4 linked regions of the Homo sapiens genome follow. Each later gene encodes a partner of the first gene's protein in a complex. Each region holds a gene or a part of one and is shown on either strand. Other genes may lie near its edges. The genes, in order: MED4, MED16, MED24 and MED25.

The links.
Region 2: MED4 (region 1) and MED16 share a complex: the UniProt entries of both Homo sapiens proteins name them as parts of the mediator complex.
Region 3: MED4 (region 1) and MED24 share a complex: the UniProt entries of both Homo sapiens proteins name them as parts of the mediator complex.
Region 4: MED4 (region 1) and MED25 share a complex: the UniProt entries of both Homo sapiens proteins name them as parts of the mediator complex.

Annotation. Positions count from the first base shown.
Region 1 is NC_000013.11:48,084,672-48,089,309, forward strand, and holds part of MED4 (mediator of RNA polymerase II transcription subunit 4), read right to left. Parts: intron 1,782-4,638; coding exon 1,611-1,781; intron 1-1,610. UniProt on the Homo sapiens protein: Component of the Mediator complex, a coactivator involved in the regulated transcription of nearly all RNA polymerase II-dependent genes.
Region 2 is NC_000019.10:878,874-883,511, forward strand, and holds part of MED16 (mediator of RNA polymerase II transcription subunit 16), read right to left. Parts: intron 2,842-4,638; coding exon 2,686-2,841; intron 1,276-2,685; coding exon 1,064-1,275; intron 1-1,063. UniProt on the Homo sapiens protein: Component of the Mediator complex, a coactivator involved in the regulated transcription of nearly all RNA polymerase II-dependent genes.
Region 3 is NC_000017.11:40,020,692-40,024,231, forward strand, and holds part of MED24 (mediator of RNA polymerase II transcription subunit 24), read right to left. Parts: intron 2,705-3,540; coding exon 2,440-2,704; intron 2,136-2,439; coding exon 1,954-2,135; intron 1,794-1,953; coding exon 1,703-1,793; intron 1,364-1,702; coding exon 1,264-1,363; intron 1-1,263. UniProt on the Homo sapiens protein: Component of the Mediator complex, a coactivator involved in the regulated transcription of nearly all RNA polymerase II-dependent genes.
Region 4 is NC_000019.10:49,827,561-49,832,198, reverse strand, and holds part of MED25 (mediator of RNA polymerase II transcription subunit 25), read right to left. Parts: intron 3,751-4,638; coding exon 3,652-3,750; intron 3,230-3,651; coding exon 3,109-3,229; intron 2,414-3,108; coding exon 2,251-2,413; intron 2,112-2,250; coding exon 1,981-2,111; intron 1,689-1,980; coding exon 1,601-1,688; intron 1,506-1,600; coding exon 1,312-1,505; intron 867-1,311; coding exon 738-866; intron 264-737; coding exon 178-263; exon of another isoform or gene 100-177; coding exon 42-99; intron 1-41. UniProt on the Homo sapiens protein: Component of the Mediator complex, a coactivator involved in the regulated transcription of nearly all RNA polymerase II-dependent genes.

The sequences.
Region 1 (4,638 bases):
CACCTGAGACTCAAAGGAAATAGACCAAACTATGAATAGTGGCATTCTTTCCGCAGCTGAACTAAAGACAATTTTTTCCCTCTTCTTTCCATTTTTCTGTATTTTCTGAATTTTGTTTGATAAGCAAGTATTACATACATAAGGATTTTTATATACATATTTACAGATTTTAATATATATATAATATATACAAACATATAAATAATATATTTTGAGACAGAGTCTCCCTCTGTCGCCCAGGCTGGAGTGCAGTGGGGTGATCCCAGTTCATTGCAACCTCTGCCTCCCGGGTTCAAGAGATTCTCCTGCCTCAGCCTCCCAAGTACCTGAGATTACAGGCGTGAATCACCATGCCCAGCTAAATTTTTTTGTATTTTTAGTAGAGATGGATTTCACCATGTTGACTAGGCTAGTCTTGTACTCCCGACCTCAGGTGATCTGCCCACTTTGGCTTCCCAAAGTGCTGGGATTACAAGTGTGAGCCACTGTGCCCAGCTAATTTTTTTTTTTTTTTTTTTTTTTGAGAGTCTTGCACTGTTGCCTGGGCTGGAATACAATAGCGCAATCTCAGCTCACTGCAACCTATGCCTCCCAGGTTCACGCGATTCTCCTGCCTCAGTCTCCTGAGTAGCTGGAATTACAGGCACACACCACCACACCTGGCTAATTTTTTGTATTTGTAATAGAGACAGGGTTTCACTATGTTGGCCAGACTGGTCTCGAACTGAGACTGGTCTCAATCACAGACTGACCTCGCGATCCACCTGCGTTGGCCTCCCAAAGCCCTGGGATTACAGGCATTAGCCACCATGCCCGGCCTGATTTTAATATATTTTTAAAAACTATTTACTAGTGAGTTGTTTCCTTAGTAGAGGTGATTAATTTACCCTGAACTGCCCAGGCTTCTAGTTACTGGAGCTCATTTTAATACATTTGTTAAGAGATTAATCAGTGGTAAGGATGCCAGCAATGTCTGGTCGACATGAGAATCAAGCTCAGCTATTTCTGCAATACTATCATGTTATATTAGTTAGTATTTAGTGAAGTAACTGGGCAAATAATAGCAAATAAGTTGCCTCTTTGAAATAGTAGCCAAGAACAGCAAAGGGAAAACTAGGATCCTTGATCTATGTCCAAATCCTACCTAGATGAGGATGAATGACTAAATTAATGTCAATTTTAATCAATTTATAAAATGTGTATATATTTTTATTGATTTCAAAATATATAAAAAATGAAAAATTTCCCTGATTTTTATGCTAAGGATCAGAGACCAAAAAAAAAAAAAGAGAGATTTAGACTACTGATAATTAAAATTTATATCAGACCAGGATAAAAGTAAAACTTTCCATTTCTATAATTCAATACTGTAAAATCTTTAAGCATCGAAAATGTGGCTCACAAGTAATGCAGACTATTTGAAAACAGTAAGTAAAAAAGAGAATGACAATAGCCTTTCATTTAACCACTGGCAATGGTGAGTGACAAGATATCACCTTTAGACTTGGAAAGTCTAGTTTTCTGCTCTTCAAAATATTGATAACAGATTTTTCAGAAACAGATTAAACAACATCCTTTTTAACCTTAAGAACCAACCTCTGTCAACTTACCAGTATTTGTTCTGCTTCCTTTAGCTGTTTTTGTAGCTGCTGAATATCACTGTCTCTCTTCTCTACTTCTTTTTCTAAAACTTGCATTTCATGATGAATTTTTCCCTGATTAAGTGCCAATTTCATTAGTTCTTGAAATTCCCCATCTCGGTGAATTAACAACTCCAGGACCTGTCAGATAACAGTCAATTAAATCAGACAATAGACTACTGAAAGGCTGCATTCCAATGAAACAAAGAATCCGTAACTGAATTGGCTAGGCTATAAATTTCAACACCTTCAAAATTTTATTCCTAATTCTTGTTAAGAATAAAAAGAGCCTACCTATGATTATTTTGGGAAACATTAATATCAAACTTTTCTACTTTTTCAGATATTCTTTCATACAAAACAAAATAAAACTAGCCTTTCAGAACTAGCAATATGGCAACATGAGCAAGTTTAGTGATTTCCTAGGGAAGACACGATTTTAAAGTTTATCCTTATGGCTGGGCACAGTGACTCATGCCTGTAATCCCAGAACTTTGGGAGGCTGATGCGGGCAGATCACTTGAGGTCACGAGTTCTAGACTGGCCTGGCCAACATGGTGAAACCCCATCTCTACTAAAAATACAAAAATTAGTTGGGTGTGGTGGCGCCTAAAATCCCAGTTACTCAGCAGGCTGAGGCAGGAGAATTGCATGAGCCTGGGAGGTGGAGGTTGCAGTGAGCCAAGATCACGCCACTGCACTCTAGCCTGGGTGACAGAGTAAGACACTGTCTCAAAAAAAAAAAAAAGTTTATCCTTAAAAATACAATATAGGCCAGGCGCGGTGGCTCACGCCTGTAATCCTAGCACTTTGGGAGGCCGAGGCAGGCGAATCACCAGAGGTCAAAAGTTCGAGACCAGCCTGACCAACATGGAGAAACCCCATCTCTACTGAAAATACAAAATTAGCTGGGCGTGGTGGTGCATGCCTATAATCCCAGGTACTCAGGAGGCTGAGGAAGGAGAATCGCTTGAACCCGGAGGCAGAGGCTGCGGTGAGCTGAGATCGCGCCATTGCACTCCAGCCGGGGCAACAAGAGCGAAACTCCATCGCAAATATATATATGTATATATAAATAATGAAAGTTCTCCCAAAATTTGGTATTTGAGATGATTTTAGGTGGCACCAAGAACTTAAGAAAACTTTTACACTTACACATTTGTGCTAATATATATTAGAAAAAACTGAGACACTGAAACTCTGAGTTTATGCACAGTATTGTTTACAATGAAGATGATCTTAAAAATACGGTGATTTCGGCCAGGCGCAGTGGCTCATGCCTGTAATCCCAGCACTTTGGGAGGCCGAGGTAGGCGGATCACAAGGTCAGGAGTTTGAGACCAGCCTAACCAACATGGTGAAACTTCGTCTCTACTAAAAATATAAAAATTAGCCGGGGGTGGTGGCACATGCCTGTAATCCCAGCTACTCAGGAGGCTGAGGCAGAAGAATTGCTTGAACCCAGGAGGCGGAGGTTGCTGTGAACCCAGATCACGCCACTGCACTCCAGCCTGGGTGACAGAGCAAGACTTCGTCTCAGGAAAAAAAAAAAAATACAGTGATTTCATAAAACAGTAAACAAACAAGTGGTATGCAGATACGGCAAAAACCATGAAGGCTAAAACACATAAAATAGAAAGTCTGGTGGTTCATATCTCTAGTCCTCCATCTGCTAGCTGTGTGACACAGGGAAAGTTACCAGCCTCTCTGAGCCTGTGTTCTTAATAGGAAAAGGAATATAATATTAATAGTAGCCATTACATGAAGCTATTGTGAGGATTCATGATATATTGCACTTTAAGTACATACAGGAAGAGTTCAGCAAAGGCTAGTTATTACGATCACTACCCCAGTACAGAATTAAGATGCAAGTCTAGTCTAAATATCCTTTACTGTGCTAAGTAGAGAATACTACTTCAGAAAGAAAATATCTATCAAAATTCAGAATCAATTTTAAAACTATTTAAAAAGATTTGTTGAAGACTAAAAAGTACAGGTATGCCTCTTCAAGATCCTTTTGACATGAAGTTCTTCTCATTTTATAGGAATTCTTCTAATACAATAGACAAAAGACTGAGCTACAAACTGCCAAATATTAAGAGTATTTTAAATAACAACAGAAAGCTTTTTCTGTAAAAAGTAAAGTATATTCTATTTATTTAACAGACTTCTAATCCTCATTCCTCCCACATCGTAGGAGAAAGCTAGGTTTCCATTTCTATAAAAGCTGTATTATTAAAGCAAGTAGTACACAGTAGTTCCCTGACAACTTTCAAGAAGTTTACACAGGTTGAATTAATTTGTATACTACCCATGAGTAAAAAATATTCTCTTTAGATCTTATTGTTCAGTAGAAAAAAATTATTCAACTAAAGTCAGAAGACCTAGGTTCTGGTTCCACTCACCATTAACCTCTACCTCATCCGTCCACCCTGGAGCTTATTCTCACAGGAGGTTGAACTGAACATCGTTAAGATCCTTTCTAATTCTAAAATTCTATATAAAATTATAAATATCCAAATAAAATGGTGGCTAGAAAATTTTCAAATGGGCACATCCCTCTCTAATAGTAACAGTTTCAATGAAAATTACATAGGAATCCACAGTACTAAGACACAATTCACAAATTGCTACTCTTTAAAAAGTGCAAGAAAGATCAGTGCTGATTATAGGTCTTAATTATCACCTTCTGAATAATCTGTGTGCCTGGCTCATAGCAAGCATTTAATAAGTGTCTATCAAATAAAGTCAAGCCTTGCATTTTACTTCTTGCATACTTTGTATAAATTCCTATTTAATCCCACGGGTATTAACAGAGTACCTGAGAGACTAGTAGTCTTCTATTAACATATTTATCTCTAGCCTCTTTCTTTTTTGAAAAAAAACAAAACAAAAACCTTACTACCCCTAAGGTTAGCTGTTTCTCCTAGCTTGTGGCCTCATCTGGATCCCCTCCTCCCCTTTTGAGGCTCACTGACACTTTTCTATTGAGTCCGTC
Region 2 (4,638 bases), on another chromosome or scaffold:
GTGCCCCAGCAGCTCACCTTTCCCTGGTTGTCAATGTCCACCAGCCCCGGCCCCGGCCCCGGCCCCGGCCCCGGCCGCAGCTCCACGTGCCCCAGCAGCTCACCTTCCCCTGGCTATCAATGCCCACCAGCCCCAGCCCCAGCCCCACATGTCCCAGCAGCTCACCTTCCCCCGGTTGTCAATGCCCACCAGCCCCAGCCCCAGCCCCACGTGCCCCAGCAGCTCGCCTTCCCCTGGTTGTCAATACCCCCCAGCCCCAGCCCCAGCCCCAGCCCCACGTGCCCCAGCAGCTCGCCTTCCCCTGGTTGTCAATGCCCAGCAGCTCACCTTCCCATGGTTGTCAATGCCCACCAAGCCGAGCCCCACATGCCCCAGCAGCTCGCCTTCCTCTGGTTGTCAATGCCCAGCAGCTCACCTTCCCATGGTTGTCAATGCCCACCAAGCCCAGCCCCACGTGCCCCAGCAGCTCACCTTCCCCTGGTTGTCAATGCCCACCAGCCCCAGCCGCACATGCCCCAGCAGCTCACCTTTCCCTGGTTGTCAATGCCCACCAACCCCAGCCCCACGTGCCCCAGCAGCTCGCCTTCCCCTGGTTGTCAATGCCCACCAGCCCCAGCCCCACGTGCCCCAGCAGCTCGCCTTTCCCTGGTTGTCAATGCCTACCAGGGCCACGCCCCAGCAGCTCGCCTTCCCCTGGTTGTCAATGCCCAGCAGCTCACCTTCCCGTGGTTGTCAATGCCCCCCAAGCCCAGCCCCACGTGCCCCAGCAGCTCACGTTCCCCTGGTTGTCAATGCCCACCAGCCCCAGCCCCACGTGCCCCAGCAGCTCGCCTTCCCCTGGTTGTCAATGCCCAGCAGCTCGCCTTCCCCTGGTTGTCAATGCCCACCAGCCCCAGCCCCACGTGCCCCAGCAGCTCGCCTTCCCCTGGCTGTCAATCCCCACCAGGGCCAGCCCCACGTGCCCCAGCAGCTCACCTTCCCCTGGTTGTCAATGCCCAGCAGCTCGCCTTCCCCTGGTTGTCAATGCCCACCAGCCCCGGCCCCACGTGCCCCAGCAGCTCACCTTCCCGTGGCTGTCAATCCCCACCAGGGCCAGTGACGTCCACGATAGCTGCATAGCCTTTAAGTGGACGGCGGGGCCCGCGGTGCGGGGGCGCTTCATGGCCGGCTCATCCACAGGCCTCGGGGCCGCGGAGCTGTAGAAGACGGCCATGGTCTGCAGTGAGAGCCGGTGCACGATGTGGACGCTGCCGTCGTGGAAGGCCAGGGCCAGCCCTGTGGGGCACAGGCACTGCTTAGACATGGGCAGGGCCCAGGACACGCCCGCCGGGGGAGGGGCCTCCTGCTCTGCAGGGTGTGGAGAGCCGGGGCTGCCCATCCAGGGGGTCAGCCCCCGCCAATCGGCATCCAGCGCCCGTGCCCCCAGCCACTCTTTCTTTAGTTACACAGTCCCTGAGCACCAGGGGAGCAGGAGCCAGCAGCCTTGGCCACACTGCTCCCAGCCCCTCCCCGCCCCTCCCAGCTGGGCCCATGTCCTGGCTGACACGCCCCTCAAGGAGCGCAGGGGAGGGGGGCACTACAGGTGGGGGACCAAGGGTTGGGGCTCCTGGCGTCCCAAAGAGAGGCATCTTAGGGTGGTGGGCTGGGGCTGTCACTCACACTGGGGTCTGCCATTGTACGAGGGCCGGGGGGAGGTGGGGTCCAGAGCCCAAAGCTCATGGAAAAGAGAATATGAAAGGAGTCCCTGCAGTAGAGAGGCTGCAAAGCCGGGCGCGGTGGCTCACGCCTGTAATCCTAGCACTTTGGGAGGCTGAGGCGGGCAGATTGCCTGAGCTCAGGGGTTCGAGACCAGCCTGGGCAACACCGGTGAAACCCCGTCTCTACTAAAATACAAAAAATTAGCCGGGCGTGGCAGCACGCGCCTGTAGTCCCAGCTACTCGGGAGGCTGAGGCAGGAAGGAGAATCGCTTGAACCCAGGAGGCGGAGGTTGCAGTGAGCCGAGATCACACCACTGCACTCCAGCCTGGGCAACAGAATGAGACTCCAACTCAAAAAAAAAAAGAAAAAAAAAAATAGAGCCTGGAAAATGGAGCATAAACCAAGGGTTTTGGAGCAGGGAACTGCATCCCCTCAACCTCTCTGCAGGCTCTGAGGAACAGCCCTGAGCCCCGAGCGGGTTTTGATAAATGCTCTTTCCAGGGAACCAGGGAAGAACGGGAGCTGGGGGAAGAAAGGGCCTGAGCTAGGGCCGACTTGTCCACATTTTACAGCTGAGCAAATAGGGTAGGCACTGAAGAGTGTGCAGACTCACTCATGGGCACGGATGCCACGGTTTGAGCTCAGGACCACATTATGGCTGCTGCAGCACAGAGAGGACACATGCCGCCTACCCAGGAAGGAGTTCCACCAAGTTCCCCAGGCTCCCTTGTTGATTTGCAATGACTCTTTACATATTAAAGAACACTGGATCTGTCTGCCAGCCTCACAGATCCCGAAAGATGAGATCTGCCTCCTAATTGGGAACCCATCAGAACCCAGAAGGCTGAGCTCCTACAGCCCCATGGCCTGTGCTCAGAGCCCACGTCCTCTGGTGTGAGCTCCCACGACCCCGTGGCCTGTGCTCAGGGCCCAACTCCCCTGGTGTGAACTGAGGCCCCGCGTGGCTGCCGCTGGCTCCACCGTACCGAGGCCAGGGTAGAACTGTGTGTCGCTGGCCACCTTGAGGTCGGTGTTGGTGAGCGAGATGGGCAGCTTGGGCAGCGCCACGGCCGACACACGGTCCAGATCGTTGGTGGCCGATAGGATCCGCCATTTGAGAATTGTGGGCTGTTTGTCGCCAACTGAAAAATCAGGGGCAGGAAAACAGGAAGGCAATGGAGTAAAGACAGGCTGAGACAGCCGCAGGAGTCCAGCATGGCCTGGTGTGCAACCTGCCCAGGGCCCTTCCCAGGTCTCATGCCGCCCTGCTCCCATGCCCAGAAGACCAGGCCCGGCCAATCCGAGCGCTTCGTGCCTCGGCCACTCATTGGTTCCAGGATGGGCACGTGACCCAAGGTGGGCCCTGGGATTTCATGGAAACCTGTGGGCCGGCACCATCTCACCCCCGATGGGGCAGACAGTGGGGAGACGGCGCCACCTCAGACCTGCAGCCATGCAAACCCTAACACTCGCTCGGCCTTAGCCAGCTCAGCCGGGATTCCCATCCCTCCTCATCTACAATTCCAATAAAGCCATGCGGGATGGTCGCACCCACAGATCCGCTGCCTGACAGCCCCTGCGTGAAGACGCAGCTCCTCCCAACAGGGCAGAGACTTCTGGGAATCTCAGGCCAAGCCTTAGCAAATGTGACATGGCCGGGCACAGCAGCTCACATCTGCCACCCCAAGACTTTGGGAAGCCAACGCCAGAGGATGGCTTGAGTCCAGGAGTTCAAGACCAGCCTGGACAACACAGCAAGACCCCATTCTCTACAAAAAAAACACAGTAAACATTAGCTGTGTGTGGTGGTGATGCACGCCTGCACACGCCTGTAGTCCCAGCTACTCAGGAGGCTGAGGTAGGATTGCTCGAGCCCAGGAAGATGAGGCTGCAGTGAGCCAAGATCACGCCACTGCACTCCAGCCTGGGCAACACAGCAAGAGCCTAGCTCAAAAACAAAAAACAAAAACAGTGGCCCAGAGAGCACGTGTGGGGGGTCCTGCTGTGGCTGCATGTGGGACACGGAGGGCAGCTGGAGCCGGCCTGCTGGAGCATGTGCGGCCAGTGGACAGGCCACGCCACCTCGGCTGCTAACCGCAGACACGTGGGAACCAGGAGAGCGCAGCTGAGGCAGCCACAGAAACAGAAACAGTGCAGGGCTGCTGGCCTGAGCTGCTCAGTTTGGGGCTGGCTTGTTACTCGGCTGAAGCTGACTACCACGCAGCTGCTCTGTGCCACCCGCATCATGAGGTCTCTGCCCCGGACGGGCCATCACGGTCACAGAGCCTTGACCTCCTGCAAACCCGTATAGGGGTCCTGTGAGCAGCATTCCCTGGGGGGAAACAGGCCCAGAGAGTGGCTGAGACGCCCAGAGGGCACACAGTGGTCAGGGGTGGCTGGCCCTCATGGAATTGAGCCTCTCATAGGAAAGACAGGAAACTCAACGCCCCAGCGCCGGGGGAGGCAGCTGCCATGACGACCACACCCCCAGCTAGTGGCCAGGGTACCCTCACAGCACGATTTACATCCCCTCCTCCATCCAACTGACGGCTGCGGTCAGCATTCCTAAATGAGGGGGGACTTGAGGCAGGGAGAAGCTAAGCTGCTAAGTGGGGATGTGGGGCAGTGGGTGAAGAGCTGGGCATGGTAGGAACCGAAGCCTGGCATGGTGGGCACGTGGGGCGGTGCGTGAAGAGCTGGGCATGGCGGGGACCGAAGCCTGGCATGGTGGGCACGTGGGGCGGTGGGTGAAGAGCTGGGCATGGCGGGGACCGAAGCCTGGCACGGTGGGCACGTGGGGTGGTGGGTGAAGAGCTGGGCATGGCGGGGACCGAAGCCTGGCACGGTGGGCACGTGGGGCGGTGCGTGAAGAGCTGGGCATGGCGGGGACCAAAGCCTGGCATGGTGGGCACGTGGGGCGGTAGGGGGAGAGATGGGGG
Region 3 (3,540 bases), on another chromosome or scaffold:
AGACTGCTTGAGCCTAGGAGAACAAGGCTGCAGTGAGCCGAGATGGTGCCACTGCACTCCAGCCTGAGCAACAGAGCAAAACCGTGTCTCAGAAAAACAGGCTGGGCGTGGTGGCTCACGCCTGTAATCCCAGCACTTTGGGAGGCCAAGGCGGGTGGATCATCTGAGTTCAGGAGTTCGAGACCAGCCTGACCAATATGGTGAAACCCCGTCTCTACTAAAAATACAAAAATTAGCCAGGCGTTGTGGCAGGCGCCTGTAGTCCCAGAGACTCAGGAGGCTGAGACAGGAAAATTGCTTAAACCCAGGAGGCGGAGGTTGCAGTAAGCTGAGATCGTGCGACTGCACTCCAGCCTGGGCAACAGAGGGAGACTCCAACTCAAACAAACAAACAAACAAACAAACAAAAAACAAAACAAAAAAAGGGCACAGAGGGACCTCAGATACAGAGATCCCAATGGAATGAGAGAGAAAAACTAACATGTGGTGAGCACACAGGGCCAGGGGCCGATCTTGGTACTTCCTAAGCTGCTTACTCCTCACAACACCCCATTTACAGATGAGGAGACCCAGACGGGGGCTGGCTCAGTCGCTAGCTAAAGGTCACAGCACTTGTAGCTGGCAAACCTAGCATCTTTCTTCTGATCAAGTGTATAGTTGGTCCCCTAGTTCCTAAAAGGCTTCAGAGAAAAGTTCAGGCTCAGGAGAAATCTCTGGAAACAGGAAAAATGCCACAGAAGGAACCCTTGGCAGTAAGCCTGGCAGGGAGGAGGGGACAGTGAAAAGGATGACCTCCAGGGAAGTGGTTGGTGGGGGGTGTGCTCTTTAGGCAGGAAGGTGGGGAGTAGCCCCATGCCCCAGCCCGGGCCTCTCCGGGCATGTTTTGGGGGAAGGAAGGAAGGAAGGTCAGAGCTGGTGAGTCAATGGCACAGGCTGTGCCTGAGGCAGTGAACTCACTCACTTGGGTAGCTTGTCATCCCCTCAACCCTGGGGTAAGGGAGGGGCAGGAGGGCTGTGGGGGAACAACTGTGGGCTGGGCTGGACCTGGGCAGAGGAGCTTCAACCCTCAGGGAGTGAGAACAGCAACCTCTTCTCCAGGGGCAGGACACAGAGCACCCCCTTGGGGGCTAGAACAGCAGGTCCCTGCCACACCCTCTCTGACCAGCTGCAAAGATGCCTGCAGCTGGGGCAGCGGCAGAGTGGCAGCATCGGGGAGTGAATTCCCAGGAAAAGGAGCGGCGCGCGGCCAGCCCACACACTCACTGGGGCTCGAAAGGATGTTGGCATCGTCCTCATTAGAGCTCAGCAGTCGCATCAACTTCGAAGGCTGCACATCGTCCAGGGGGAAGAGGCTGATATAATCCTAGAGGGAGTGAAAGTCACTGTTATACACCCCTAAACCCCCCAGTTTCCAGCTGTCAGGGAAAAGAGCTTGAGCTCCGATTTGAGCGAGGTCAGCATGGCTAGCAGGGCCTCAGCCCCTCTCTGCTCAACCCCTCCCACAATCTGACAGGCCCCTTGTGCCCATGGGCAAGCTGGGGCCACACAAATCACCCATGCAGATTCCTGACCAATCATGCCCAGGCACAGCTGCCCCAAGGGCAGGGGCCACAACTGCTTCCCTTTGCCTGGGGAATCCTTAGGAAATGCTGTAACAAACCGGTGAACAAGTGAAGCCGGCGAGGGCAGCTGGGGGGCCTACCTCAATGTCTTCGCGGTGTCTCTTCTTCTGGCGGGTGGACGCCTGTCCCTTGTGGGAGGAGTAGGAACTGAGGGCACACCACACGGCCAGCCTGGCAAAGGGTTCCAGAAAAAGGGGGACAGTGAGAGGTGCCCCAGGAGCTTTCTGTGTCTGACTGGGCTCCCCAAAGCCCAGTCTCCCAGGGTGGCACCAGGCGAGGGGTGCTTGACCCTGGGTGGCCGGAGCAGGGCAAGCTCTGAAGAGAATCTTACTTGGCAAGAGCAGTGCCCGGGGGGTCCATGAGGCTGTGCCACTTGGAGGAGTCAGTGAGCAGGCCAGGTAGGATGTGGCCCAGCAGGACCAGGGTCACTTGCTGCATGTCCAGGCAGAAGATGGAGTAGAGCAGCTCCACTGCCCGCAGCGTGTGCTCCTTCCGCGTCTCCTTCAGCAGCTCCTAGTGCGCAGGAAAGGGGGCAGTTCAGGAGCCAGGGGCCCGGGATCTGGGGCTCCTACACCCTGCCACCCCAGCATGGCTGTCCAGTAAGGCCCGCAGAGGGGGCCCCAGATGTTGCTCCGCCCCTCAGGCTGAATCCCAGTCTCTGGCCAGAGCTCCCCAAGGAGGCAACTCTGAGGCGAGGCATTCCGGGGAGGCCACCTGGCTCACGGCAGCCTCTCAGGGAAGCCTGGCAGACCAGGCCAGGTGTGGGGAGCCAGGGGACAGGACCCATGTCGGCCCACAGCCACTCCAGCCCAAGTACCTTAATCAGGTTGTTGCAGAACCAGTAGACGCCGCCCATGTGCAGCAGGGTGTCAAAGATGTGGATGGAGCGGCTGTCCACCCAGCCCTTCTCCAGCACCTTGGCAAAAATGTCCGTCAGCACCTCTTTGATGGGCCGCTTGGGGGGCAGCAGGTTCCAGTAGGGCATTGTGTCCACCCCGGTGGAGGGAAACTTGATCTGCGTGGCTGTCTGCTGCAGCACGTCGGCACACATGCGCTCCAGGATCGAGTTCATGATCACCACCCTGGGGGAGGGCCGAGAGAACCTGAGGCTCAGGTGCCACTGTAGGGTGGGGAGGGAGAGGAGGGAACACCCATGCCAGACTTTCCCTTGGACTTAGGTTACGGAAATCTCCCTGAGGCATTAACCCAGTTTTGCGCTGGGGGACGGTATACCCCGGGGTGACCTGGCCCCTGCTCTGCTCCTGGCAGGTCTCTCACCTGCAGGACACAAAGCCTATAAATAGGGACTGGGGAGGGACTTTCCTCCCCCTGGCCATTCCAGCCAGATATTCACATTTTCTTTTATTCTCCAACTTCCCCCATCCCCCAGGCCTGGGCCCTGCCAACCTGCCACATAAATAAACACAATCACTTCCCCCTAGGCTGAGTGCTTGGGGGTCCCCGCCCAGCCCTGGCCTCCTCCCAAAGTAAACTGTTCCTTCCAGGAGAGGCCCAAGGGCTGCCCCACAGGACTCTTCCCGGCCCCTGGTAGCTGGGCAGATAGAAGTGTATATCCAGGAATTTTCTCATGGAAAGAGGCTTCGGAAGTGAATACAGACCCGGGCCGAGTGCTGACTGTTCCTGGAATGCAGGGTGGCTCTGGGAAAGTTGCTATGACCTTTAGAGCCACTTTTCCCACCTGCACAATGGAGCCACAGACTTCTCACTACCCCTTACCCAGATAGGATTTAGGGTGCTTAGAATGGGTTACACCAGAGCAAAAGCTCCCTACTTGGTAGGGCGGGGGGGAAGGTGGTGGAGAAATGAGAGAAGAAAGGAAAAAAGGAGGAGGCAAGGGGAAAACGAGATGTGCTTTTCCAGACCGTCCAAACCTCATTCAGCTCAATGCTTCCCCTTC
Region 4 (4,638 bases), on another chromosome or scaffold:
GGACTGCCCGGCAGCAGGGCTGGCCCTCCACCGCCACTCACCAGCAGCTGCTGGGGGATGAGCTGCATGATCAGCTTCTGGGGCCACTGCTCCGTCTTCCTGGGGGCGATGCCAGGAGAGGTGTGAGGAGGGGGCCAGCCCCAGCCCCACCACACCCCGCCCCTGACTGTCACCTACAGGTTCTCGCCATGATTCACGTAGACCTGGCAGGGCAGTGACCGCGTCAGCTTGGTGTTGGCATCCACTGAGGCAGGTTTGGGTTTCTGAGGGGGAAAAAAGAGCATGTCAGTAAAAAGGGCCATAAGCCTCAGTCCCCTTGAGCCCTCATGTCCTACCCTGGTAGCCCCAAAGCTCAGGATGTTCCCCAGTTTAAGTCCCATGAGCCCCAGGCCCCTCCTCCAGACCAGCAAGCCTTCAGTTCCTCAAATGTTACAGCTACGTGCCCGGCCCCTAAATCCCACCATCCACTGTGCCCCAGATGATACATCGCCTGGGCTCTTCTCTGGGCCCCAAATCCTGGGCTTTTCTGGGTTCTTTGCATGGGGACTCTCCTCTGTACCGCAAGTCCCACCACTCCATGGGGCTCCTGGCCTCGCCCCGCATCCCACAGGTCCAGCGCAACGAATGCCTCCAAACCCAGCACTGCAGACCCCACGCATCTGGCCCCATGAGTCCTACATGCCCAGCCCCACGGCCCCAGGAGTCCCAAGTGCCCAATGGACCCTCAGGCCCCTCACCTCTTGCCACTCCAGGACCCCGCTCCAGGCCAGAAGCTTATTGGAGACTGACTGCTGCCCACCGAGGGCTGGGGCTCCCAGCTGGGCTGGGGAAGGGCCGCTCACCCCTCCTGGGGCCACAGTGCCTGCCTGCCAGAGGGGAGGAAGGAGGGCCATGAGAATGGGGAAGGCCGGGAGCCTCCGGGGGCCATCCTGTGAGGGCAAACCAGGAAGGAGGAAAGATCCCTTCTTCTGCCCCTCCATCCCCAGAACAGCACTTGGCCAGCCGCAGGACCCCAAATGCTTGGACCTTGCAGGATTCGAGGACTCGTAAGCTGTGCGATGCCCTGGACTCCCAGACCCAGGGATTCCTTGGGTTTCTCGGAACAGCCCTGACCCTCCTGGAGCCATGAGCCTCCCCACTCTGTCCCCAGACCCTCATCTCAGGCATCTGCAGCACACACACCACGAGCCCCCAAAGCCCCAGAACCACGAGAGCCACATCCCCCTGGAAGGCAAATGACTCATCCTCTAACTGTCCTAGCTGTGGACAGCAGGAGGAAGGAGCAGGGGCAGGAGGCGTGCAGGCACCTACCATGGACGGTGCCCCGGGCTGTGCCGTGGGAGCCAGGCCGGAGCCAGGGGCCACAGTGGAGACCAGACTGGGCTGGGAAGCAGGTGGTGGCTTGGGGGCGCCAGGGGGTCCTGGGGGTAGTTGGGGAGCTGGGGCCTGGCTGAAGGGGGGACCCACTCCGGGAGCAGCTTGTTGGAGAGGGGTGATGGGCGAGACTGTGGGAGAGACCAAGGGAAGAAGTGGGGAACAAGTGTGTGGAGAGAGGCCTGCCTGGCCCCTGCCCGCCCTTCATCCTCACTCCAGGACTCACAGCGAGGGCCCAGCCCAGCCTTCTGGTTCTTGGCAGCCTCCACTGCATTCTGCGCGGCCACCTGAGCTGCACTCAGGTTCCCGGGAACCTGTGGGTAGAAGGGAAGAAGGGAAGGGACTGGTGAGGACCATGGCCCCCCAGTCCTGGTATCCCACGAGGTCACACCACCCATGGCCCCATGAGGCACCAGCTGGGATAGCTTAGCTCACAACACCCATCACACAGCACATGAGCTTCCATGGCCCCAAGAGTCCCACCTTCCCAATGTCCCATGGGACTCCCATCATCCCACAAGCTCCAACATGCAACTAGATTTCTCCCCAGGGGCCAGGGCTCCAGCAAGTCCCCAGAAGCATGTCCCTTCCCGGAAATATCCATACCTGGTACTGCGGGGGGACGGGGGGCAGAGGCTGCTGGGGGGCTGCTGAGAGAGTGGCACCTGAGGGTGCGGCGGGAGGCAGGGGGACTGGCTGCTTTGACTGGAGGGGGCCTGGGGCTGAGCCACCCCCAACTGAGAGCAGGAGGGATGGCCAACCCCAGAGAGAAGGGATTCAAGATGCAGAGAAAGGAGAGAAATCCAAAATCCAAGTCAGAGGGAGCTGGGGAAACACGTCGAGCCCCCATCCCCGCGCACGGTGCCCAGGCCTCACCAGGCAGCACGAGTCCCCGAACCAGCACCATGTGCCTCGGGTCCTGGCTCACATCTGTCGGAGGCTGCAGCGGCTCCAGCAAGGCCGGGGGGGCTGCCTTCTCAAACAGAAGCCGAAGCGCAGGCAGCTTCCGGGGAGACACAATGGAGAAGTGGATCCCCCGCTGTAGGAGAGGGGCCGAGCAGTCATGACGGGCCCCCTCCATAAGGGTGTTGGGGCCGGCCCCCAACCTACCACAACTGCTGTGTGGCTGGACGGCACCAGCCCTACAACCACAATTCCCATTGGGCTTTGAGGCAGGAGACCCTGAAACCAGGTATCACCTGCCCCGGGAGACTCTGGGTTCTAGTTTTGTCAGTAAGACTAAGTGGGCCAGGTGTGGAGGCTCACGTCTGTAATCCCAGGATTTTGTGAGACCGAGTCAGGCAGATCACATGAGGCCAGGAGTTTGAGAGCAGTCTGGCCAACATGGTGAAACCTCATCTCTACTAAAGATACAAAAATCAGCTGGGCGTGGTGGCGGGCGTCTATAATCCCAGCTACTCGGGAGGCTGAAACATGAGAATTGCTTGAACCCTGGAGGCAGAGGCTGCAGTGGGCCAAGATCACACCACTGCACTCCAGCCTGGGTAACAGAGCCAGACTGTTTCGAAAAGAGAGTAAGCAAAGCTGGTCACCAGTCTGTGACTATTCTGTGTCTGAGTCCAGGCCCCCAGTGCCTCCCCGCTTAGACCCAAGAGTCCAGGCCCCCAGTGCCTCCTCCCTCAGACCCAGGAGTCCAGGCCCTCAGTGCCTCCTGCCTCAGACCCAAGACTCCGGGCCCCCAGACCCTCGTCCCTCAGACCCTGGAGTCCTCACCTCCCCAATCTGCTGCACAAGATTCTCAGTTGTGCATCCAGAGTACGTGGTGCTCTCAACAGCAGGCAACAAGTATGGGGGTGAGTTGCAGATGAGGAGGCAGACCCGGTGCGTCTGGCCACTACCAGGAAAGAGAGAAGACATGGAGCCAGCAGCAACAGAGGCCCTGAGAAGGAACCCAGACCCAGCACCAGCGGAGATGCACATATTCCGCCTCACATGGAATCAGAAGCAACGCCCCTACTTTACAGCTGAGAACACTGAGGCTCCAAGAGGTTCTGGGATGTGCTCTACGTCACCCAGCAGGCAGGGCAGGCAGGAGTGACACCCAGAGTTGGCACTGCTTCCTGATGGGGATGCTGAGACCGGGCACTGGCCAGGCGTCCCCCAAGGACACACCTGCAGCCTCCTGGCTCAGCGTGCTTGGGGACACAGAGCCCATGCCCTACAGGGTGAGGCTGGAGGTAGAACCACTCGACAGGCAAAGTGGTTCCAGGCCAGGCAGAGAGAGACCGGCCCGGCCTGGGTGGAGGGGGCACTCACATCTGCTCGCGCATCTTCTTGAAGTCATCAAACAGCTGCAAGGCTGTGCTGAGTCCTTCCGCGATGAGGCTGCAGCTCTCACCACCCCCGCCCATGAACCTGCAGGGGCAGAGCGGTCAGCCCCCAGGGTTGCCATCATCCCCATCCCCAGGCTATGCTTGAAGAGCCTGCTCCCATGCTGTCCCCCACTCTATCCTGGGCTATGCACCTTGGGATGACGGGGACCCTGCTGAGTTCCCTACCCAATCCCTGGTGCTAGCACAGCACCAGTCCCAGACAGGACAGGGGACATTTGCTGTCTGTGTTTTTTTTTTTTTTTGAGATGGAGTCTCGCTCTGTCGCCCAGGCTGGAATGCAGTGGCATGATCTCAGTTCACTGCAAGCTCCGCTTCCTGGGTTCATGCCATTCTCCTGCCTCAGTCTCCCGAGTAGCTGGGACTACAGGTGCCTGCCACCACACCTGGCTAATTTTTTGTATTTTTAGTAGAGACGGGATTTCACCATGTTAGCCAGGATGGTCTCCATCTCCTGACCTCATGATCCACTTGCCTCAGCCTCCCAAAGTGCTGGGATTGCAGGAGTGAGCCACCACACCCGGCCGACATTTGTTGTCTTTAATCATGAGGACTGGGAGGGAATGGGAAAGGGCTGGGGACCCCAAGCCTAGGATCCTGTGCTGACTCCAACCCTGGAGTGACTGACTCCATGCCCAGCCTCCTGCTGTCCCCTCCCCTCTCTGGGCTGTCTGCTCCAAATCAGTCCTGGCCCCACTTCACCTTCCCAGCCAGAGACGGGGGCCTCCTCTGTCCTCCTAGTCTTATGGGTTCAAGTGTGCCCCCTTCAAAAAGACAGGTTGAGGTCCTAAGCCCCAGTACCTCAGAAGGTGACCTAATTTGGAAAGATCTTTACACAGGTAATCGAGTTAAATTGCGGGCCCTAATCCACTATGGCTGGTGTCTGTGAAAAGGAGAAACGTGGACACGGACA